Homo sapiens: one gene and its partners. The protein of the gene in region 3 purifies or fractionates together with the protein of the main gene of each other region. This does not show direct contact. Each region holds a gene or a part of one and is shown on either strand. Other genes may lie near its edges.

What was found.
Region 1: the proteins of CDK15 (region 3) and EPS8L1 purify together in Homo sapiens (affinity purification with mass spectrometry; 2 studies listed by BioGRID and IntAct, with this or other methods). This does not show direct contact.
Region 2: the proteins of CDK15 (region 3) and HMGCS1 purify together in Homo sapiens (affinity purification with mass spectrometry; 2 studies listed by BioGRID and IntAct, with this or other methods). This does not show direct contact.
Region 4: the proteins of CDK15 (region 3) and EVPL purify together in Homo sapiens (affinity purification with mass spectrometry; 2 studies listed by BioGRID and IntAct, with this or other methods). This does not show direct contact.
Region 5: the proteins of CDK15 (region 3) and ALDH1A3 purify together in Homo sapiens (affinity purification with mass spectrometry; 2 studies listed by BioGRID and IntAct, with this or other methods). This does not show direct contact.
Region 6: the proteins of CDK15 (region 3) and UGT1A9 purify together in Homo sapiens (affinity purification with mass spectrometry; 2 studies listed by BioGRID and IntAct, with this or other methods). This does not show direct contact.
Region 7: the proteins of CDK15 (region 3) and SQOR purify together in Homo sapiens (affinity purification with mass spectrometry; 2 studies listed by BioGRID and IntAct, with this or other methods). This does not show direct contact.

The regions. Positions count from the first base shown.
Region 1 is NC_000019.10:55,085,869-55,088,423, reverse strand, and holds the end of EPS8L1 (epidermal growth factor receptor kinase substrate 8-like protein 1), read right to left. Parts: coding exon 2,451-2,555; intron 2,364-2,450; coding exon 2,232-2,363; intron 2,033-2,231; coding exon 1,906-2,032; intron 1,711-1,905; coding exon 1,536-1,710; intron 1,122-1,535; coding exon 989-1,121; intron 897-988; coding exon 810-896; 3' UTR 501-809; downstream 1-500. UniProt on the Homo sapiens protein: Stimulates guanine exchange activity of SOS1. May play a role in membrane ruffling and remodeling of the actin cytoskeleton.
Region 2 is NC_000005.10:43,310,613-43,314,665, forward strand, and holds the start of HMGCS1 (hydroxymethylglutaryl-CoA synthase, cytoplasmic), read right to left. Parts: upstream 2,801-4,053; 5' UTR 2,744-2,800; intron 2,570-2,743; exon of another isoform or gene 2,410-2,569; intron 1-2,409. UniProt on the Homo sapiens protein: Catalyzes the condensation of acetyl-CoA with acetoacetyl-CoA to form HMG-CoA, which is converted by HMG-CoA reductase (HMGCR) into mevalonate, a precursor for cholesterol synthesis.
Region 3 is NC_000002.12:201,813,037-201,816,536, forward strand, and holds part of CDK15 (cyclin-dependent kinase 15), read left to right. Parts: intron 1-3,500. UniProt on the Homo sapiens protein: Serine/threonine-protein kinase that acts like an antiapoptotic protein that counters TRAIL/TNFSF10-induced apoptosis by inducing phosphorylation of BIRC5 at 'Thr-34'.
Region 4 is NC_000017.11:76,013,807-76,017,306, reverse strand, and holds part of EVPL (envoplakin), read left to right. Parts: intron 1-1,678; coding exon 1,679-1,857; intron 1,858-1,941; coding exon 1,942-2,080; intron 2,081-2,197; coding exon 2,198-2,391; intron 2,392-2,730; coding exon 2,731-2,881; intron 2,882-3,500. UniProt on the Homo sapiens protein: Component of the cornified envelope of keratinocytes. May link the cornified envelope to desmosomes and intermediate filaments.
Region 5 is NC_000015.10:100,907,331-100,910,830, reverse strand, and holds part of ALDH1A3 (retinaldehyde dehydrogenase 3), read right to left. Parts: intron 2,424-3,500; coding exon 2,349-2,423; intron 1-2,348. UniProt on the Homo sapiens protein: Catalyzes the NAD-dependent oxidation of aldehyde substrates, such as all-trans-retinal and all-trans-13,14-dihydroretinal, to their corresponding carboxylic acids, all-trans-retinoate and all-trans-13,14-dihydroretinoate, respectively.
Region 6 is NC_000002.12:233,670,575-233,674,697, reverse strand, and holds the start of UGT1A9 (UDP-glucuronosyltransferase 1A9 precursor), read right to left. Parts: upstream 2,801-4,123; 5' UTR 2,764-2,800; coding exon 1,909-2,763; intron 1-1,908.
Region 7 is NC_000015.10:45,687,029-45,689,404, reverse strand, and holds part of SQOR (sulfide:quinone oxidoreductase, mitochondrial), read right to left. Parts: intron 1,069-2,376; coding exon 1,001-1,068; intron 367-1,000; coding exon 188-366; intron 1-187. UniProt on the Homo sapiens protein: Catalyzes the oxidation of hydrogen sulfide with the help of a quinone, such as ubiquinone-10, giving rise to thiosulfate and ultimately to sulfane (molecular sulfur) atoms.

The DNA of each region.
Region 1 (2,555 bases), on a different chromosome or scaffold from region 3:
CAGGAGGTGGGGGACAAAATGGAGAAGTGGATGCTGGGAAACTAGCTTCGGGGATGAGGGCAGGCTTCCCCACAGTGAGTGTTTGAGCTGGGCCAGGGAGGCTGAACAGGAGTTCGCCAGGCAGGGAATGGCCGTTTCAGCCAGCAGAGACAGCAGGTGCAAACCTCAGAGGTTGAACGCTTGGGAGCGTTTGGAGAAGGGCAGGGCCAGGACGCAGGAAGGAATGAAGTGAGAACGTTGGTGAGGCGGGAAGGGAGACACAAAGCCTCATGCCCAGCAGCCGCGAGCCAGGGAAACGTGAAGGTGGGGCAAGCTGGACTAGGCTGGCTAGGAGGTCAGGAGGGAGCCTGGTTTGGGACCCTGGGGATGGAAAGGAGGGTTCAGAGAGAAACCAAAGAGGGTGGAACATTTTCCAGGTTCCATGAGGCTGTGACTGGGTCGAGGGGCAGGTTTCTGAGCCCCCTGGTAGCCGGGTAGAGGACAGCAGTTGGCACACCATCTGCTAAGCACGGAGGCTGTTTATAGGCTGGGCCGCATATTACAATGCTCAGGGCTCCACTGCACCCTCTCGGGGGTCTGCTAGCGCTTTCCGTAGACTGTCTCCACGCCCTCCCCACTCCCAGCCAGTCCAGATCCTCTCCGGAGGGACTGCAGCAAGGATCGTTAAGTCTGTCCACCGGGATGGGGGAAGACCAGGGCCGGAGCAGATTGGCCATCCTTCAGAAGATCGACTTCCGCTATTGGGGAGAGTCTGAGGAGTCCGTTCTCCCACGGGGCCTCGTCACTCTTTGCGAAGGGCGCCTGGCAGGTCAAATGACCTCCATTTCCACCTCGCCTTCCACCTTCTTCTTTTGCTTCTCCATCACTGCCTCCAGCTCTGACACTTTCTCTTTGTCCTGGAGGGCGGGGTGGAAATCGCTTTGTCCTGGCGTCCGAGCCCTCGTCATCCCAACCCTACCCAGACCCAGGGACCAGCGGTCCGGCTCACCTCCAGCAGCGAGCGCTGCACGGTGACCTGGCTGTACACACGTGCCCCCTCCTCGGGGCTCACCGCCCGCAGCTCCTCCTTCTGCAGCGAGAAAAGCTGCGCCCCGGTCAGCACACCCAGCGCGTCCACGGTCCTGAGCGAGGGCAGCCCGGGCGCGGTCAGGCCGGTCGGCGGATGCCCCAGCCCGGACAATCATGTCACGCCCACCCGGCGATGGTCCAATCAGAACAGCATTCTAGCTCTAGCGGGGGCAGGCCCGACACCTCCTGAACCCCACCCACCAATCACAATGTTGCCACCCGGGGGGCGTGGCCGCATCCTGCTTTCAAAGGGTACGGGATTTCCCTAAGGAATCCAGTCGGAGTCTGAAAAAACATGGCAATCACAGCCTGCCATTGGGTGTTGCTACCAGACAGACCCTCACTTCGGGCTAATCCCGGCTCCCTGTGGTCTCCACGACTGCCGCCCCCCGACTCCCGGCCGATCGGAACGCTCCGCTCCCAGCGTCCGTATCAACCCGCGCCGAGAGGGCCCCGGCCCCACTCACCCGGAGCTAAAGCCCTTGGCCTGCAGCCAGGCGCGGACCTCGGAGGCGTCCGAGCCCGGGCTGAGCTGCGGTTCCGGGGCGCGGGGCCCTGGGACTGCGCGGCTCGGTCCCGAGCGGCCCTGGGCCAGGCGCGCCTGCAGTTCCTCGTTGACGATGAGCATCTGGGAGAATTTCTCTGCAGGCGGGAAACCGGGAGGTAGGGAGTGCGGGCTCAGGGCGAGGGGTCCTGGGGCCAGAGGGCGGGGCGGGGGGGCGCTCCAGCGTCCCCAGAATGGGACGGGAGTCCCTTTGCTCTTTCTGAGCCCCCGTTTCTCTGCCTGGAAAGCAAGGATAAGGACCGCTCCCCGCAGCCGGCGTCCCCACCACTCACCCTTCTCGCTGGGGTCCAAGCCGTTGAGGCTATCGCAGCTGTCCCAGCGGGGCCTGTCCCAGCGGGGCCGAGCCAGAGCTGGAGGTGGGGCCGGGGCTGGGGCTGGTGGTGGAGGAGGAGTGCTGTTCTGAAAGGAAGGAGAGGAGAGTACCTGGGTTAGGGAGAGGACTCAGAGTCCCAGCCTCTCCCCTTTCTGGAGATGCATTTCTGAACCCCCAGTCACCACCTGCTCCAGCACTCTTGACAGCTGATCCCCACGCCCCTTGTTCCCAGGATCTGGTCCCAGCCTCTCCACCCTCAAGATCCCAGCGTCTGCGCTGGCTCACCAGGCTGCGGGCAGGGCTTTGGCTGTGGTGCAGCCGGGGTCCGGGGTAGGGTGTCAGGATGTTGTAGGGCACATATCCCTCCTGCCCCGCTGGGTCCCGAACCTTCCACCACTTACGACTGTCATCCAGGACCTGGGTGTGGTAAAGAACAGAGGGTTCAGAGCCTGTCTGCAGCTAGGGCTGGCTAATTCCTGCCCCTCAGCCTCCCGCTCCTCTAACCTCCAGTACGTCCCGCTGCTTGACCGACAGCTCACTGCTGTTGCGGGCCTGGAAGTCATAATTACACAGGACCCATTTTCCTGCTGTCTCTGACTCCAGCTGAGG
Region 2 (4,053 bases), on a different chromosome or scaffold from region 3:
GCTTTCTGCTATCACTTTTTAATTTTTTTTTTAATTTATTACTGCTCCTTGCAGAGCAGGGCTACTCTATATGTAGTGTGTCCAGAGTAGCCTGCTATCAGTTTTGAGATGAGCTGCAGCACCATAATGTCTAGTTTAAAGAAACTGGCTCTTTACTGCTACTGTTCAAGGCATATGGTAGGTTTCAATTGTTCCCAGATTCCAAGGTGAAAAATGTAAGAAGCCCATATGGAATCAGAAAACATTTGTTGGTCTTACAATCATTCCCATATGCACCCACAACTAAAAACCCTGCAAAGATGAAGACAACACTTCAGGCTTTCAAAGATTAGCCTCTCCGCTACTGGTGTAACTACACCCAGTTGACAGACATTAAGTGAACATCAACACACGCCATGCATTAGGATGAAGAGATTAAGAGTCTAGTTCTAGCCAGGCATGGTGGCTCACGCCTGTAATCTCAGCACTTTGGGAGGCCAAGGCGGACGGATCATTTGAGGTCAGGAGTTCAAGACCAGTCTGACCAACATGGTGACACCCCATCTCTTCTAAAAATACAAAAAAATTAGCTGGGTGTGGTGGCACATGCCGGTAGTCCCAGCTACTTGGGAGGCTGAGGCAGGAGAATCACTGGGAGGCATAAGTTGCAGTGAGCCGAGATCACGCTGCTGCACTCCAGCTTGGGCGACAGAGCGAGATTCTGTCTCCCCAAAAAAAAAAAAAAAAAAAAATCTAGTCCTATCATTAGGACAGGTAATATGTATCCCACCTTTTAAATCTATACTACCTTCTTGAAAAACATAAAAATATCACACATCCTTCTATGATATTTGGTTCCACAGTAACCCAGCATAAAATTATAAGGCTATATTCCTTTCTAAATGAAACTAATTGGAGATTCTGATATGTAGCAAAACAAACTTCTCCAGCTACATCTCATATCCAATTCCACTGGATTATGGAAGATCCAACCAGGTTTTAAATGATTCTAGAGGACACAGGAAACTGATGTTACAACAATATCGGGTTTTTGCGTTTATTTCTTCTGAGAAAAGCTATCTAAAATCTAAGTCAAAATCTCAAAATCAATCCACAGTTAAAAGAAACAAGATGTAAAAGCAATCTGGAGGGATATTTAAGATGAAAAACAAAATTAAAACAAGGCCCAAATGATGTGGCCTATGGCTCCAAACATAAAATATCCTTTTACACTCCCTCCCCACAGCGTAAGTCAGACCTTCTGAGTGCTGGGGTTACTGATGATTATACTAGAATTGAGCTGAACTAAAGTAGAACCGAATAAAGGGCAAACTTACAAACTTAGGTGAGAAATATCTACAAAGGTAGACACAAAGAAAGCCTTTCTCTCTTCCCATAAGGTATGCTATCCCTGCCCCCTTCTTCACACAAAAATAACTGCAATTTTAAAATAAAGTTTAAAGAACACAAGCTGCTTAGGTGTCTCAAGTGCAAAGAACTACTGACACGGATAATGTTAACGACTTTCAACTGCCTCTCATCTAATAGTATCTGTGCAATAAAGTCCAAAACACATCTCAGAAGGAAAAATCTGTTAACTCTAGGAGCACTTCCATTTGTCTTAATTTTGTTGTTTATCTTGTCATTGTTTTTCATATTCATGCCTAAAACAGAGCAAATGTTAGTTAGCAGCAACCAGAACACATCATCCTACTGCAGCAGGTGGCAAGAGCATCCTCGGGAAGGTGGGGAGCTGCAGCAGAGGTGAGCAGTGAAAGCAGCTACTGATGCCTTAAGGCTAAGGCCATAGGGACAAGCATGACAAACAGGCACAACCTCACATTATTTGTTCCCCAAATCCCTCCTCCAGAGTGGATCAGAATAATCGTTTCTCTACCACTGGTCAAGGCCAGACGTGGGTTTTCAAAGACTCCATATACTTGCTTTGAAATATCCTTAGCTTAATCCAAAACCTATTTGTGGGAGGACTCTGTGAGTGCCTGCCCATTACACTGTATCACCTAAAGCTGGTCCCGAAGGTATTAGTAGGAGAGAGATGTGGGATTTCAGAACACCAAGGAAGCCTATTTTTTAAAACGTAGACAAAAAAAAATATGGAGGCAGGAAGGCGGGAGGCAGTGATCTATGAGATTTGAAGCAAGTACAGACTGAGCCCCAGTACTTAGCCAGGTCTAAATCACGGTTGTGAACGCTTTCTTGCACCTGAGCTGAGGAAGAAAAGTAATGCTACCCACTTCCCTTCTTTCCATCAACTCTATATGTGGCAGCAGGACACACCCCCTGCGAACCTACCAGCCTCCGTCTAAAGAGGATCTTGCCCATCCTTTGGCGTCCACCCTTAACCAACGCTCTGGAAACGCCTTGGTAGCCCAACTGTCTTCTCTCCCCCTCCTGACACCCCCCACTCACCTCTAGGCGGTCACAGCTGCCTCTCTGGCACCTCCAACTCCTCTGTCGTTAGAATACCTAGACCTCAACGCCCTCTCGCGTTCTCCCCTCCGCGACTCGCCTGTGTTCTCGGATCTTCTCAGATCCGCTACGGTCGGCCTCAGGTCCCTCACGAGGGAACCCCCGCCCGGCCCCGCTCACGGTGCCCCATCCTCCCGGGCAAAGTCCACGCCTACGTCCTGACCCAGAGCCCCAGCTCCTTCGGGCCTAGTCAAGGACACCGCCTCTGTCTGGCCCACACCCCGCCCGCGGCACCTCCGCAGCCCAGTTCTACTCCCCAGCGCGGGACACTCACCAAGCGTGACCGAGCGGCAGCAGAGGAAAGGGAGTGAGCCACGAAAGGACAGTCCGCGGCGCCTCCCCTTCGCCACCAGCTTTATAGCCGCCAACCCACCCGACTCCGGCACCGCCGAGAGTCGCTGGGAGGCGGGACGGTGGCTCCCACAGCCAATCGCGGCCGGTAGAGTTGCCCGGCAGCGCCCGCCCCCCAGTCCGGCTTCTACCAATCAAAAGGAAACTAGAGGCGATGACTCGCTAGGATTTTCCCTCGTGGCTGGAAGGGCGGGGAGAAGAGGCGGGGACAAAGTCTCAGGGCCGAGGAAGTGGTGTGAGAGACTGACGTGAGGTGGCACGAGAGCCCAGTTGCCAATGACGGAGCTGCGAGATACGGCGAGAGCCAACGGGAGCGGAGTGAGAGGTTCTCCGACCAATTGGGACTAAGTGAGAGGAGATGCGGGCCAATGGGTACTCCGCGTCCCACCGCTGGAGAGATGGTCAAATGTGGGAGGCGAGGTGGTCCCAGCTTGGGAGTCTGTCAGGTTGCCTAGCAACCAGAACTAGGCTTCACCTGAAAGATTTCTGAAATACTGTACTTGATTTGAATTCAGTCTTAACGTTTTCTAGCAAAGTGTGCGTAGATTGCAAATTGGAGCAGAATACTTCACCCAGAACTTGTATATGTGTAAATAGTCTAAATACCCGATTTGTAAATACTCAAATATTGTCTCCTTTATTCAAAACTACCTTGACTTAAAGAAAACAGAACAAACAAAAGTGCTCTTGAGACAAAGCTTTCTAACTAAACCTAAAACAAAATGGTTTCAGGATTAGGCATCCGTGGGGAGGGTGCAGAGCCTTGCCTGTGAAGGGAAGTTGATACTGAATTCAAGGATTTTTGCCAGGCCATGCACTCTGAGGAAAGGGACTCCATTTGGCCTGTTGCCCACTGTATCTTCTAAGCTTCATATGTGGTACCTGCCAAGTAAAAGGCTGTGGAAAGGCCACGTAATTGTCGGCATAGTAAATCCATCGGATACGGACTGCCTAACTCCCCCAGCAAATAGAGAGGAGCAATTCAAGCTAGAGGAATTCACTGAAACACTATTTGGGGGAATCCAAAGGAGGACACTTGTGGCTTTGCAATAAACTCTGCCTCTATCTGGTCAGAGAGAGAAGCCATAATACTTAGCTTTGGTGGGGGACCATGAGTGAGGTTCGGAGTTGTTTGTATCTCTCCCCATCTCAATTTAATTAACAGGAATGCTATTGATAAGGGGTCATTGGTAATTCTGTGATTCACACAATTATTGTTATGGGAGATTCTTT
Region 3 (3,500 bases):
ACCTGGTGTCAAATGGACTTGGGTTTGCAGCACAGGTCCACCAATCACTAGTGGTATGATGTTGGGTAGGTTACTTTAGCTATTTATTACTCAGTTTCTTGCAGGAAGAGGATAATAGTGGTACCTATTTCATGGAGTTGTTATGAGTATTCAACAAGAATATGTATATAAAGCACTTATCACAGAGTCAGTTTTTCAGAGTTCAACAAATGTTGACCATTTTTATTCCATTCTTCTTTTCCTGGGTAATGTCTTATTTACCATCAAGATAACTAATACTTTATAACATAAACATCAAGAAGCCAACATAGTGAAATGAATCATTAAAAATATAATTTATCAACCTTTATTGCATGAGCCATTTGAAATAAGATGATGATAGGATTGCTATGCATTTCAGCAAAATCCCAGAGAAATGGCACTTCCCTGGCCTTATTTTCTCCCACTTTTAACTACTTATCTTCTGTTCTTTACTGAGCACATGCTATATGCAGAGTATGCTGCTGGATGCTGTGAAGGATGAGAAGAGAAACCCATGTCTTTGTTCTATCATTTGCAGTCTTAACAGAGCACATGATTCAAGTTACAAGTGTATAAAAGACATAAACTAAGATGAGAGCAAGTTAGTCTCAGTGTGACTGATGGAGTCACTAGATTTTGAACTGAGCTTGGAAGGATAGGTTATGCAAACAAGCATGGAAAAAGCAATTCAGAAAATGAGTTTATAACTGAATTTGATACCCTTTTCAAAAGTCTTTCAGAGCCCCTGAGGAATACATCATTTTGAATTTAATTGGAAGGGCCAAATGGGCTATTGGTTTAGCCAGAGATTCATCCTGGTAGGATCAGGTGCATTCTGGGAGAAGGCATGGTTTTAAGTGTTTAATATAATGGAAACTGCATTAACTAATGTACTTATTAATGGTCTCCATGAAAGGATGATCAGATTTGGAAAGAGATGTATGGATAGGTTAAAGAGTATTTGTGAACGTAATAGAAATTCCCAGGTCACCCGCATAAGAGGAAGGTTTCCTTTGTGAGCTTGAGTTTGCCAATTGCTTAAGATTGGCTTTGCTTAGATATTGCCCACAGCCAAGTTTTTCAGGTTGACATTTAACTGTAACAGTGAAACCTTTTGCCAGGTTTGCTAACAGATGGTTCTCAGCATGGTTCAGAAAACCTGGATCCGTTTTCTTCTGTATGCTAAATGTTTCTTTCATTGCATATTTACGGAGGAATTGCCTCTCCATCACAGGTGTTTACAATTACATTTAGTAGTCAACTGTGGACTTTCTTGGTTTGTTTTATGGACTTACCTTACCGAATGCTTTGCTCGTGTAATATTAAAAACCACAAGAGGATTTCTGACACATTGGAGGTTGTTAGGAATCCAATTTCCAACAATGAATGTTTCTTTTTACACCACTATAAAAGCTTGGAGCCCTTGTTAAAAGAGCCCTCTCCCCTCAAGAAGATATGAGGCTTTATTCGAAAACTTTGGCACTGTCCCATTTTTCCTGTAAGAACTTTAAGGATGTGAGACCAGGGAGACAGGAGGTTAAATGAGAAGGGCTGGAAGGCAAAGTAAGAACAGCTGGAGTTCATTAGCTAAAATCCAGGGTCACTAGCTAAAAAGGCAACCGAAAGGCACGTGCAGGAAAACTGAACAAGTAATGCAGCCCTCTTTAAAAAGCCTTGAAGCAGGAATTGCTTTTCCTGAACAATTTGGCTGCCCTGATGGTATAGCAGCCAAAGATTTATTAAGTATGATTTTACTACATATATGGTCTCTTTCTATACAGGTAGAATACATGTGGCAATTTACTAGTCTGGTCATTTGGAGTACTATTTTCATTTGACCTTAACATGTGATATTATGAAACTAGCAAAAGTATGAACAGCACTAAGGAACATTTTTTTTTTTTTTTTTTTGAGACGAAGTTTTGCTCTTGTTGCCCAGGCTGGAGTGCAATGGCACAATCTTGGCTTACTGCAACCTCTGCCTTCGGGGTTCAAGCAATTCTCCTGCCTCAGCCTCCGGAGTAGCTGGGATTACAGGCATGTGCCACCACACCCAGCTAATTTTGTATTTTTAGTAGAGACAGGGTTTCCCCATGTTGGCCAGGCTGGTCTTGAACTCCTGACCTCAAGTGATCTGCGTGTCTCAGCCTCCCAAGGGAAATATATCTTAATACATGTGTCAGTGCTTTTCATACTTCTTTCAATCCTCTTAACAATCTTTAGAGATAGATATTATTAATATTATTCCACTATATGGTGGTGATTCAAACCAAATCTCTCTGATTCAAAAATTCATAGGCTTTCTACGCACCCACTGTAGAAATATTCATTTAGCACCTACTATGACCAGGTACTCTGCCGAACTGCTAGATACACAGCAATACACAAAATAGATGTGTTCCCTACCACCCTCATTCCTTTGCTAATTAAGAAAAGCAGAGGCCTTCATAGTGCCTTGGAAATCTCTCATAATTGACTCTAGAATTGTATTTTAAGTGTTGATTTTTACAACTAGGAGGAAATACTTTCATTTGAATAGGCTAATGTGTTATGTTTTTACATAGTACAACATTTCTTAGTTTTATGAAACTTTATAGCAATATCTTAATATAATGTGCATTGTTTTAAATATTTTTGTTCAAGTGGTCAACTTTTGGTTTAAACTGAGGACTTTCAGCCTGTTAATAGCATTTTTCTTAGGAAGGAGTCATATAACTAATCTTTTTTGAGGACAAGGCATATGACATAATCTCCCCCTTCCCCTACATAATGTATATTTTTAAAACCTTTATACCAACCCTAGGAAGTAAAATGTGCTATTTTTGTTGTAGAGATAAAGAAATTCTAGCCTCAGAGAGGTTAGTTAACTTGTCTGAGGTCACAGAGATAGTAATCAGAGTTGTTAGAATCCATTTCTATTCTATTTAAAATCCCTTCTACTTTATTATGATGAATTTGGAAATGCTTAACTAAAGTATTTATTGTTTAGCAACAGTAAAAATAAAAATAGAAATCTGTTTTTATTATACATTTTATATAAACATTAAGGAAAATGCAGAAGAAGTATTTTTTTAATCTTTAATTTTAGATTCAAGGGGTACATGTCCAGGTTTGTTACATGAGTATATTGCATGATGCTGAGGTATCTTGTCACCCAAATAGTGAGTATAGTACCTGATAGGTAGTTTTTCAACCCGTGTCCCTCTCCCTTCCTCTCCCCTTTTGGAGTCCCTGGTGTAGTGTCTATTATTCCCATCTTATGTCTGTGTGTTCCCAATACCCCCAGTTATTAGCTTTCACTTGTAAGTGAGAACATGTGGTATTTGTTTTCTGTTCCTGGGTTAATTCACTTAGGATAATGGCCTCCATCTGCATCCATGTTGCTGCTAAGGAAATGGTTTTTTTTTTTTTTTTTTTTTTTTGTGGCTGCATAGTGTTTTATGGTGCCAGTGTACAAATTTTCTTTATCCAATCCACCA
Region 4 (3,500 bases), on a different chromosome or scaffold from region 3:
ACGTGGACTCAACACTCCCAAAAGTGCTCAGAGTGAAACCCACACCGGGCCGCAGTCTGGGTTATCCTTCCAAACCAGTTTCTTTTCTTTTCTTGAGACAAAGTCTCTCTGCATCACCCAGGCTGGAGTGCAGTGGCACGATCTTGGCTCACTGCAACTTCTGCCTCCCAGGTTCAAGCAATTCTCCTGCCTCAACCTCCGGAGTAGCTGGGATTACAGGCACACACCACCATGCCCAACTAATTTTTGTATTTTTAGTAGAGATGGGGTTTCACCATGTTGGCCAGGCTGATGTCGAACTCCTGACCTTAAGTGATCCACCCATCTCGGCCTCCCAGAGTGCTGGGATTACAGGCGTGAGCCACCGCACCTGGTCTGTTTTTTGTTTTATGAGATGGGGTCTCACTTTGTCACCCAGGCTGGAGTGCAGTGGTGTGCAATGGTATAATCTCAGCTCACTGCAACCTCCACCTCCCAGGCTTGAGTGATCCTCCCACCTCAGCCTCCCGAGTAGTTGGGACCACAGGTACAACACTGAGCCCAGCTAATTTTTTTGGTAGAGATGGGGTTTTGCCATGTTGCCCAGGCTGGTCTCAAACTCCTGAGCTCAAGCGATCCTCCCGCATTGGCCTCCCAAAGTGCTAGGATTACAGGCATGAGCTACTGCACTTGGCCATATTATTATTATTTTGAGACGGGGTCTTGCTTTGTTGCCCAGGCTGGAGGGCCAGTGGCATGATCAAGGCTCACTGTAGCCTCAACCTCCTGGTCTCAAACAATCCCCCTGTCTTCACCTCCCAAGAAGCTGGGTCCTTAGGTTTTGAAGTCATAGCATCTGCCACATCAGCGGTGTTGGGGTCCAGGAGAAGCCCAGTTAGACTGGGCGGTGGGTGGTGCCTGGTGCAGAGTCAGCACTGCTCGGTGATGGACCAGGCAGATGAGTGAATAACTGATGAAAGAATGAGGGCAACAGTCCCTAGTGGGCAGAGCCAGGGCTTTGGCTGGAGCGACAGGGCCAGGGGACCTGATGGTCTTGTGAGCAGGACAGTGACATGAAGATGACTGTAGGTAACTGTGCCTGGCGCTCACTGCTGAGCTCAGGACACAGGCTCTTGTGTCATCCTCCCATCAATCATTCTTTTTTATTTATTTTATTTTTTTGAGATGGAGTCTTGCTCTTGTCTGCCAGGCTGGAGTGCAGCGGTGTGATCTCAGCTTGCTGCAACCCCCACCTCCTGGGGTTCAAGCAATTCTCCTGCCTCAGCCTCCTGGGTAGCTGGGATTGCAGGTGCGCGCTGCTACGGCCGGCTAATTTTTGTATTTTTAGTAGAGACAGGGTTTCGCCATGTTGGCCAGGCTGGTCTCGATCTCCTGACCTCAAGCAACCCACCCGCCTTGGCCTCCCAAAGTGCTAGGATTACAGGTGTGAGCCACTGCGCCCGGCCCCTCCTATCAGTCATTTTGTAGATGAGGAGACTGAGGGTCAGACAGTTTGCTCTGCCCCAGGTCATCCACAGAGGAACGAGTAGCGCCAGGACTGAACGCAGTTCTCTGGCCTGAGCCCAAGCATGTACCCACCACACTCTACTGCCTCCATGGGCGCAGAGTTAGGGTATCCTGGTAGAAGAGTCGGGCGGAACCCACCTGCCCAGAGATCCCTGACCCCGCCCCTCTTTAGGGCACAGCCCAGCGCCTGCAGAGCCTGGGAACGGAGAAGGAGACAGCCCAGAAGGAGTGCGAGGCGTTTCTGTCCACGCGGCCCGTGGGCCCCGCTGCCCTGCAGCTGCCCGTAGCCCTCAACAGCGTGAAGAACAAGTTCAGTGACGTGCAGGTTCTGTGCAGCCTCTACGGGGAGAAGTGAGTGCTCTGGGGACAGGGCAGCCACGCAGGGCAGCAGCGTGTGGCCCAGGGAGTGTCTGAGCCTTGCCTCCTCTGCGGCAGAGCCAAGGCTGCCCTGGATCTGGAGCGGCAGATCCAGGATGCGGACAGGGTCATCCGAGGCTTCGAGGCCACCCTGGTGCAGGAGGCCCCCATCCCTGCTGAACCGGGGGCTCTGCAGGAGAGGGTCAGCGAGCTGCAGGTAAGGGACCAGCCGGGGCCTCCTGGTGTCAGGGGAACCCAGCATTCAGGGGCGGGTGGGTGGACACGGCGTCTCCCCAGCCACGAGGGTGCACGGCTGCGTCCCCTCCTCCTGCAGCGCCAGCGGAGGGAGCTGCTGGAACAGCAGACCTGCGTGCTGCGGCTACACCGCGCGCTGAAGGCCTCGGAGCACGCATGCGCTGCCCTGCAGAACAACTTCCAGGAGTTCTGCCAAGACCTGCCTCGCCAGCAGCGCCAGGTGCGAGCCCTCACCGACCGCTACCACGCCGTAGGGGACCAGCTGGACCTGCGGTGAGCGACTGGGTCCTCGGGGCACAGGGTGTGGGCTGGTGCAGAGCCAGGCATTGCTGTCTACAAGCTGTGTGATCCTGGGCTAGTGACTTCACGTCTCTGAAGCTGTTTCCTCATCTCTAAAATGGGATAACAACAGCACTTACCTCCCAGGGTGGTGCCTGGTAGAGACTGTCCCATCTCTGAATTCCCAGGGTCAGGGAGTGGGGATCTGCACAGCAGGCCACTCGGGCCTCCTGACCTGCCCCCAGGAGGAGGCTCCCATCAGCCTCCCTGTGCACCTGCCCCTGTCCCCACGGGGCAGGTCTTATCTCTGTTCTGGGCCTCGTCCTCCTGCAGGGAGAAGGTGGTGCAGGATGCCGCCCTCACCTACCAGCAGTTCAAGAACTGCAAGGATAACCTGAGCTCCTGGCTGGAGCACCTGCCCCGCAGCCAGGTGCGGCCCAGCGACGGCCCCAGCCAGATCGCCTACAAGCTGCAGGCGCAGAAGGTGAGGCTGGGGCAGGGACAGCTGCCTGTGCCCATGTGGCCCCCTAGTGGCCAAAGCTCAGAAGCGCTCTAAGGGGCTTCAAAGCCCAGGCCACGGAGGCCCTGGGCCCCTTCCCTGGCCTCCAGCTGAAATGCTCCTCTTTGCCCACAGACGGGGCCAGCCCATCTCTGTCTGGCCCGACTGGGGCAGTGGGATTTACAAGCTCAGGCCACAGAGCCCTGAGGGTTCCGGCCACTTTCTCATGCTCATCAAGCCCCTGCCATGTACCAGGCAATGTGTTCACTGGGGTACAACCCTGCACCCTGGCAGCTCCCAGCCTGGTGGGGGAGGTCTGTGATGCCGACAAGCATTGGTGGGAGAAGCTGGAGTGCTGTGGGTGCCCCCAGGCTGGACACACTTGCGGGTCAGGATCGGTAGTGTGGGAGGAAGCAAGTGTAGCCGGGGGAGGGATGAAATGTCCCATGCAGAAGGCATGGCAGTCAGGGGAAAGGAGGGGGACTCAGGGGCGAGGGCGACCAGATGGGCAGACCACACAGGCCCTTCCGGCACAGGACCCAGGCTGCACTCTCTCCTGCAGCCCCCAGAAGCTGCTGGGGAGGGGATGCTTCCAGGCCAGTGT
Region 5 (3,500 bases), on a different chromosome or scaffold from region 3:
GGAGTCCTTGCTGTGGCGTGAGGCTGTGTCTGGCGTCTGGGAGGAGGACTGTGTGGGGTCTGGGTTCCCCAGCCCTAATGACCCAGCTGGTTGAAGGCAGCAGATGAAAGGAGACAAATGACCACGCAAACCCTGGGTGGCCTCATGAACAGGTGGCGGACAAGGGTGATCCCTGTTGAGCAAGGTCCTGCACTGCGGTGGGTCCAAGGACTAAGCTGCCAGCATTCATTTCTGACTGTCACTTACCAGCTTCCTGTGCCATTTTCTCATCTGAAAACAGCTGGACCCATCTCATGGATGGGCGTGAGGATGGTATGAAGGAACAGGCATAGAGAGCTCAACCGAGCCTGCTGCAGAGTCTGTGCTCAGCAAATCCCAGCTGTTGCCAGTACTGTTGCTGTTGGAGGGCCCAAGAGGGGACCCTGGTGACCCCAGCCCTGGCTGCCTGTCCCTGGAGGGGCAGGTGTAAGAAGTGATGAAGCAGGGGCTCACAGAACTCAAATGCAAACAGGCCACTAGAGGGAGGAAATGCAATTTCTGCAAAGGGGTTTCATGGCCAACAATTACTGATGTCCGCTGAAGGCGAAGCCAGCCACAGGGATAAGGGGGAAGGCTAATGGACAGGCTTCACTCACAAGTGCAGACGCCTTGGAGTATTTGCTGAGAGTCAGGGATGGACTACAAAGCAGGACTGAGGTGGGAGGGGGACAGGACCCCAATTCCACATAGACTGGTCAAGAACATCTGTTTGGGGATGGAAGCCAGGCCCATCCCTTCACAGCATCTTTAAGAATCTCAAAAGAGAGCCACACAAAGGCCCCAACCAAGGCCCAAGGTGAGGGGAAGCGTTTGAGTCTGTTCCCGCTGGAAGAAGTGCAAACAAGGGACTACATTTGTATATAAATAGGACAGACTAGTGAAATAAAAGGAAGAGTTTGGGTCCCTAGAGATGTCCCAGGAACCTGGGGTGTTGTCACAGATGGTTCCTTGGGAACACTGATCCTACAAAATGTTTGTCCACACAGGCTAATAAAATCCTGAGCTGGGGAGAGAAGACAGTGTCCGGCTGGAAACCACACATCTCCACTCCCGGGTTGCTCTAGCCAGCTCTGGGTGTGGGCCAGACGCAAGAAGTTCCACCCATTAATCTAAACCTAGGGAACTCATTTTCCCAGCAGGCAGGACAAAAAAGGAAGTGTGGAGGGGTTTGCACACACAGTGGAGGGGTTTGCAGTGGGTTTGCACACACACGAAGGGGTTTGCAGTGGGTTTACACACACGGAGGAGTTTGCACACACATGTGGAGGGGTTTGCAGTGGGTTTGCACACACTGGGGTTTGCAGTGGGTTCACACACTGAGGAGTTTGCACACACATGTGGAGGGGTTTGCAGTGGGTTTGCACACACAGTGGAGGGGTTTCCAGTGGGTTTGCACACACACAAAGGGGTTTGCAGTGGGTTTACATGCACACGTGGAGGGTTTGCAGTGGGTTTACACACACGGAGGAGTTTGCAGTGGGTTCACACACTGAGGAGTTTGCACACACATGTGGAGGGGTTTGCAGTGGGTTTGCACACACACGGAGGGGTTTGCAGTGGGTTTACATGCACACGTGGAGGGTTTGCAGTGGGTTTACACACACGGAGGAGTTTGCAGTGGGTTCACACACTGAGGAGTTTGCACACACATGTGGAGGGGTTTGCAGTGGGTTTGCACACGCACGGAGGGGTTTGCAGTGGGTTTACATGCACGCGTGGAGGGTTTGCAGTGGGTTTGCACGCGCATGGAGGGGTTTGCAGTGGGTTTGCACACGCATGTGGAGGGATTTGCAGTAGGCTTGCATATACTGAGAGGGCCGCAGAGGCCCAGCAGGAGGTGTTGTCATATGCCTCCTGGGAGGAGGTCCCCTACTAGGCTCAGAAAAAAGGACCCAGCAGGTAGGAGCCTTACCTGGGTCAGCCTTACCTGTCTTCACTGCTGTGAGTGGGGAGTTGTGTGAATAATGACACCCCACATCTGGCAAAAGTACACTTTTTCAGTTCTGCCTGTGTCCCCGTCCAGGGAGCTTTTGTCAAATATCCACTGAATGTCCCCAGCATGATGGCTGCTGGGCAGACACAAAAGCCGAGGCCTGGAGGGGGGCAGGCTGAGGATGTAAGTGGGAAGGGTGGGCTGGAGAGAGGAAGGGATGGGTCCCCACCAACCCTAGAGGGACACAGCTGGCCCAGACAGAGCGGCGGTGTGGGGGGGACGGGGTGTCAGCAGATTGGAGCCTGTGTCACTGCCTGCAAATCTAGTGGATCTAGTGTTCAGCCCACGGCAGGCTCAGAATGATGGAAACACTTACAGTTCTCTGCCATTTCCTGACATTTTAAAGCCACCAAATGGAGCCTGTGCATAGAGGGCGTTGTAGCAGTTGATCCTAGAAAAGAATGGAAGAAAGCTCAGAGTCATCTGGAGAAGACCCCCTGGCTCCTGGCACTGCAGCCACTTAGCCCCCAGTGCAGGGCATTGTCTAATAAACAGTCTTTTGCCAAAGCTTCCTTGATGAAAACACAGGGTGCTCTCAACTTTTGTCTTCTCATTCTTCTCATCAGCAACTAAAATTTGGAAATCCTCAAGTACAGAGTGTGTTTCATTGGGATAGGAATGAAATGATAAGGGGAGAAAAAAGAAGAGAGGGCCAGGCATGATGACTTATGCCTGTAATCCCAGCACTTCGGGAGGCTGAGATGGATGGATCACCTGAGGTCAGGAGTTCAAGACTAGCCTGACCAACATGGTGAAACCCCATCTCTACTAAAAATACAAAAATTAGCTGGGCGTGGTGGCGTGCACCTGTAGTCCCAGCTACTGGGGAGGCTGAGGCAGGAGAATTGCTTGAACCTGGGAGGTGGAGGTTGCAGTGAGCCGAGAGTGTGCCACTGCACTCCTGCCTGGGGGAAAGAGCAAGACTCCATCTCAAAAAAAAAAAAAAAAAAAAAAGAAAGAAAGAAAGAAAAAGAAAAATCAGGGTGTAGAGGAATAAGAATTAGCTTTGAAATGAGACAGAACTGACCCCAAAGTTCTCCTGCTTCCTGGTTATATGATTCTGGGCTTATTGCTCAACCTCTCTGAGCCTCAATTCATTAATCTTTAATATGGGGATCACAAAACATAATCTGCAGAATTACTGATGAGGCAGAGACTAGTATCCACATTTTGCAGATGGGCATGAACTGCTTTTAGAATCAGAATGGAAAATAAAGTTGGAGGGGCAGTACAGCACAGGGGCCACAGGCACAGGTACTGGAGCCCTCTCGGCCATCTGCTAGCTGTGTGACCCTGGGCAAGTCACTTCATCTCTCTGTGCCTCAATTTTCTCATCTCTGAAATGGAGACATAATGGCAGCTACCTCAGAAGATGGTCATGAGGATGGAAGGAAGCACTGAGACAGGGCTTGGTATATAATATACAATGTAAACAATGAGAAACTCTCAGTTAATAGAAGAATAATGA
Region 6 (4,123 bases), about 32 Mb from region 3:
CATATTCTTTAATAGACACATAAACACATTTATTTCATATCTCATAAAAGATATTTATAATCAAAATAAATGAAACCATATATAGTTTGATGTTTCATATTTTATAGATAACCCTCTATCATAGGTGATATAAAATCATATATAGGTTTTTATATCTCTAAAGGCCTCTGGGTGACGCTGTGAGGCACAATAAATTCAGTGTGGGTTCAGGAAGTGGCAGGGCCTTACCCTCAGCCAAAGGTTGTGGGGTGCAGGCAACACATAAGTGGTGCCTGTTACTACAATTAATGGAGGATACTATAATTTATGGAGGGTAAAGGGGAGAAAAGTGCTTAGACAAGTCTAACCTCTTAGATTTCTGCCATTTGCATCTCCTAGCCTAGTCTTGTGAAGATCCGAAAGTCATGCCTAATTTTGAAAGGCCTACAACTGTAGTCCTCCTGCTTTTTAGAAAGAGCATTATTTCACTTTCCCATGAGTTGGCTGAACAGTCACTCTTTCACCAAACATCTGCCAATATGTGAGAGAATATGACTGTGTTACCAAGTCTACTGAACCTTGTAAGGAGCCAGAACAATAGATAAATTGTATACTCCATCCCTCCAAAATAATATACTGAGATTAGACATTAGGTGTTTAATCTGGATTCAGCCAACTACACATTTGCTAAGAATGTTATTCTGGTATTTGTCATGGACTTTTCAATCACAAGTGATTGAATCCCTATTTAAAATTTAAACTGGCTACTCTCACAATATTACTCAATAGTGCTTTGGAAGTATAAGCTCCAGCAAAGCAAAATAAGTGGTATAAATATCAGAGAAGGGAATTCTTTGCAGTTGACATTGTATATTGTACATCTACTGTATACTACAAAATAATAAGATAAGTTAGTAATGTGGCTGGATACAAGATACATATGCAAAAAACAAAACCTTAATTACCCATAGTCAGTTACATGTAGAAATGGAAAAATTGTCCTGTACCCAATAGTTTCAAAAATAATGAAATGCTGAGGAATAAATGTTAATAAGAAACAGAAAATGCTTATATAGTGAAAAATTTTATTTATGTATATAAAACAAGATCTGAATAAATAGTGAGACATACATATTCCTGAACAGGAAGACACAATAGCAAAAAAATGCCAATCCTTCTCAATTCATGGAAATCCTGTAACCCTACATGTAGGGCTCTAGTCAACTAAGATAAAAGCAAGAATATGGAAATATATTCATGTAAGGAAAGTATTAAAGAGTGTTTACACGGCCCTATTCATAAAGACAAAAAATGCAAAATGCCTAAATCTATATCAATATTAATTGGTTAAAAACTACATTGCATCCAAAGTAAAGTATTTTATGCAATTATTAATAGAACTTGTCAAATCTGTCTGTATTGGTCTATAAAGGTATTTATAATTTATTGGCAAGTGAAAAATGCAAAGAAAAGAAGAATATGTCCAGCCCAATACTAGATTTTATTTTAACAAAATAGGTGTGAGAATTTACATTAGATATTGTATATACCTAAAGTACTTTTTTAAAAACATTAAAAGAATGTTCACAAAACTAAGACCATTTCCTCTGGGGCGGGCATATAGAATTAACAAAAAAGGGAAGTTTCATTTCTTACTGTGGTTTTTGGTACTTTTCTAAACATGGTACTTAAAAATGTAGGCTGAATATGTTCCACAATTTTATAAGTTATAAATACATATCTTCAAGAAGGGCAGTTTTATAAAATTTGCTACTGACGAGTACACGCATTGGCACAAAATAATTTGTTAAACTGGAAAGAAATTTGAAATGAAACAAATGAAAATGTCAAATCACAGTTCAGTAAAGAATCCTTTTTTAATTTCCAAAGGTGAAGTATTCTTAAGGTGCTAAAGGAGAGATAACTTACCATAGGCAACGGCTTTCCCTGATGGCAGTTGATACCACCAATGAAGATCATGTTGGGCATCACGGGTTTGGGATAGTCCAAAACAAAGTCCGTTCGCAACAACCAAATTGATGTGTGGCTGTAGAGATCATACTCCGTAACAGGTGTTTGGAGAATTTCAGAGGCTATTTCTAGGGCATTTTTGAAAAAACGGTGGCATAATAAATGTTCCTCCAAGTGCATGATGTGGTTCCGTACTCTCTCCTTGAAAGTCATGGCATCTGAGAACCCTAAGAGAATTCTGGGGACATAGGAAAGAGGAGCAGGGCACTGTGCACCTTCTTCAAGATAGTGGCAAAGTATTCCCCTGGCGAAGACCACGGAGGGGAGGGAGAAATATTTGGCAACAATTAAGCCACAGTTATCAAAAGGATCGAGAAACACTGCATCAAAAGAACTCTCCTTTAAGTATTCTACTAATTTTTTGTCTTTAAACAAACTCCTGCAATTTGAAAAAAATAAGTCAAAAATGTCATTGTATGAACCCATTAATAGAGAATATATACTTCGTACTTGTGCTTTCCATTGAGCATGGGCAAAAGCCTTGAACTCCCGGTCCAGATCCTCCAGGGTATATGAAGTTGAATAAGTCTTCACTGTGCAATTCAGTGATCTTCCCAGTTGCCAACTCACCTCTGGCATGACTACAACCACCTCATGCCCCCTGAGAATGAGTTTCTCCACCACCGACCTCATGGTGAACCAGTGGCTCCCATCCATGGGCACTACCAGTAGCTTCCCTGCCTCGGCAAAGCCACAGGTCAGCAGCAGACACACACATAGAGGAAGGGGGCTGGTCCACCCTGTGCAAGCCATCAGAGAACTGCAGCTGAGAGCAAGCAGCTGGGAATCTAAGCTCCTATGATACAGTAGGTGGGAGAAATACCAGCACAAAACCTGACCCCAATAGAGGGCGTGTTTTTATCCTTTCATAAAAAAAAAATCAGTCACTGACAATGATTTACCCAAAAGAACAAGAATATATGAGTAGCTTTTGCTGAGATATCTATTTGTATGTTTTCCAGACAACAGTAGCTTATGGTCTTTGCCTTGGGGGCAGAACATGCCCTGTGCTGCAATGTTAAGTTTAGAAGCAGAATTATTAACCAATGCTTTTGGACCTTGAAGGTTCAGAAAGATAAAGTAAAAGTAAATTTGATTAAAGCTAATTTTTTTTGGAATTTGTCCCAGAGCAAAATTTAGATTTTACCTTTAGGCAACCAAATACTCTCTGTCCAGAGAAGATGGCAACTCATGCTCTAAGCAAAGAAAACAAGGCCCTTAGCACTGACCTCCTAACCTCCTAAATTGGGGCTCGCCTGTGTCTCTGCAATGCATACATATTGCTGCTTCTCTTCTTCCATTTCCAAACCCTGAGAAGCCTCTAAAATGCTGAAATGAGACTGACAACCCTGCTTCCATGGACCATACCAGGGACTTGATGGAAAGTAACCGTCTCCTATTTTAAATGGCTTTCCTAAGATACATCGCACGCAGTGGGAAGTTGCCCGCCCAATCCTTGCGAGAGCACTCTGCTGAGCTGCCTCTCAGTGACCGCTCAACTTGCACATTCTAAACACGCCATCACTCCAGTGCCCTCCTTCAGGAAAATATGTACTTGTCTCTCTCAGTCTGCTGAGCACTCCTTGAGGTCAGAGGTGATGTCAACTTTGTGTTTTCACCCTCCTTTCACAGTACCCATGCTATGCCTTTGACATAGTTTGTATGTTTGTATGTTTGGGTTTACAAATAGGACTGCCCCCATCCATAAGCCTGCTAGCCTCCAAGCCTTAAAGGGAAAAGATCAATACCCACTGCCAGTTTTTTTGTTGTACAAGAAGGCCTCGGCAAGAACACTTTTTCTGGATTGGTTCTATCATTACTTTGTCCCTGAAGTCAGGTAATATCTTGCCAGTAAGAGACGGTCTTTCAAAGTTCTTTTGATTTTTGGACAATGCCCCTAGCCACCCAGAACCCATGAGTTCAACACTGAAGGTGTCAAAGTGGTCTACTTGCCTGCAAACCCAACATCTCTAATTCAGCAACAAAAGGTGGGGGATATGGTCTTTCAAGATATGAATCTGTGAGAAATTCAAGAATGAATAGACACCACACCAGAGGAATCAACAGAAGATGACTTGATGGAGATGAGTGCTTTTGAATCAGTACCAGATAC
Region 7 (2,376 bases), on a different chromosome or scaffold from region 3:
TGATAGAGTACTTGGTATGTGAAAGTGATTTACTATTATTATTTATCCAGCAGCAAAAGAGGGCCTAGAGCATGGAAGACAGAACACTTGGTCACTGCTAATAATGAAGAAAAGAGGCTGCATCCCCTTTGGGTGGAGATGTGCTACAAATCCCTTTCCTCATCCAGGAACCAGGCAGTGCACTTACCTTAGCATCATATTCCAATACAGGAAAGGCATCAGGTCAGCTTTCATGAGATACATGGAAAGGCGCTCTTTGCTTTGATCAAAGGGGAAGGTTTCTAGCGGCTCTGCTTTGTAGTCAAACTCAGCAAGAATCACACGGTTGTAGCCGGTCACCAGTGGACATGATGTGTAGCCATCATACTAAAATTGTAAATCAGACTGAGTTGGAAAGTAGATTTTTTTCATGGTACTATATTAACACTATAGAATTTATTATTTGCTGTGAGTGCTTATATATTTTTTCTTTTCTGTATATTCTAGCTTTTTGTACTGTGAAAAATGTAAATTATATTACAAAAAAAATAGTACTAATGGCAAAAACAGAAATGCCCATATTGGAGACACTAATTAAAAAAGTGCAAAACTGGGCCAGGCGCGGTGGCTCACACCTGTAATCCCAGCAGTTTGGGAGGCCAAGGCGGGTGGATCATCTGAGGTCAGGAGTTTGAGATCAGCCTGACCAACATGGAGAAACCCTGTCTCTACTAAAAATACAAAAAATTAGCCAGGTGTGGTGGCACATGCCTGTAATTCCATCTATTCGGGAGGCTGAGGCAGGAGAATCGCTTGAACCCAGGAGGTGGAGGTTGCGGTGAGCTGAGATCGTGCCATTGCACTCCAGCCTGGGCAACAAGAGCAAACTGCATCTCAAAAAAAAAAAAAAGAAAAACAGAAAAAAAGAAAAGACAGAAAGTGCAAAATTGTGGGAAAACACTACTTTTACACAGAATGGAAGATGATCATTGAGACAGTGATTCTTACAAGGCATACAAACCTTCTTTGTTGGTGTTTGATTCTTCATAATTACAGAAATTGTCCTATCAAGTATTCCTGACTGGGCAGCTATAAGAGAAATGGGAAAGTCAGAAAAATGTAAGCATCAAGGTTTTCCATGAAAACTAATTTGCAAATAACTTTAATGTAAACAAGAAGATTCCATTTCCCATCCCTCAAGACTGTGACTAGAACATGACCTTCTTACTAATTGAAATTCTGACTACCGGAGGGGGTTCTTTAATTCATGGAAGGCCTGCGCATGTGTTTCCATGGGTTTGATACTAAAGAGCCGACTCCCTCCAGTGTGGCTGTAAGGAGGGACCTACCCCAAATCCACTGCCTCTCCTCTTGGGGTTGAGGCTGTCAACTTAGTCTGTGTGTCCACTTAGTCAGTGTTCTTGACCATGTGGGTTATCCCTGTGTCCCTGTTCACAGGCAGTCTGGATTGGTAGCCCCAGGCATTTCCAATAAGACAAAGCAGGCCTTCCTCTCTACCGGACTGTCCTGGCTGAGGCAGGACCAGGTGGATATAGATACAGATATAGATATAGATCTGTGGATATAGATATAGATCTATAGATATAGAGATACAGATATATAGATCTACCTGTATTTCCATCTCTCTGTCTCTTTCCTAGATAGACAGACAGACAGACAGAACGACAGACAGATACAGATAGATACATACATACATCGGGATTTGTTTCTGTTTTTCTTTGGCAAGAATGGGGAGACTGCCTTTTTTATTAGGAAAATGTTCAAATTCCATCGTTTTGTTTCATGCATCTCATCACACATGCTATTTTTTTCCCGCTGTATTTTTAGAGCAGATATCACATCAGTTCACTCATAAATCTCCTGTCTGTATCTCTGATGGGGAATTTTCTTAACACAAACCCGCAGTATTTTCGCACCCCCAAAATATTAGTAATAGTTTCTTCATATAATCTAAACCCAGTTTGTGTTCAATGTTGAATAATTAAGACTGCCCAGATGGGCATGGTGGCTCATGCCTGTAATCCCAACACTTTGGGAGGCCGAGGAAAGTGGATCATTTGAGGTCAGGAGTTCAAGACCAGCCTGGCCAATATGATGAAACCCCATCTCTACTAAAAATACAAAAATTAGTCAGGCATGATGGTACACGCCTGTAATCCCAGCTACTCAGGAGGCTGAGGCAGGAGAATCGCGGAGGTTGCAGCAAGCCGAGATGGCACCACTGCACTCCACCCTTGGGGATAAAGTGAGACGCCACCTCAGAAAAACAAAAAAAGACTACCCTTTTAAGGAGACAGCAGTTTGTGGCCGAGCATGGTGGCTTACGCCTGTAATCTCAGCACTTTGGGGGACCAAGGTGAGCAGATCACAGGAGTT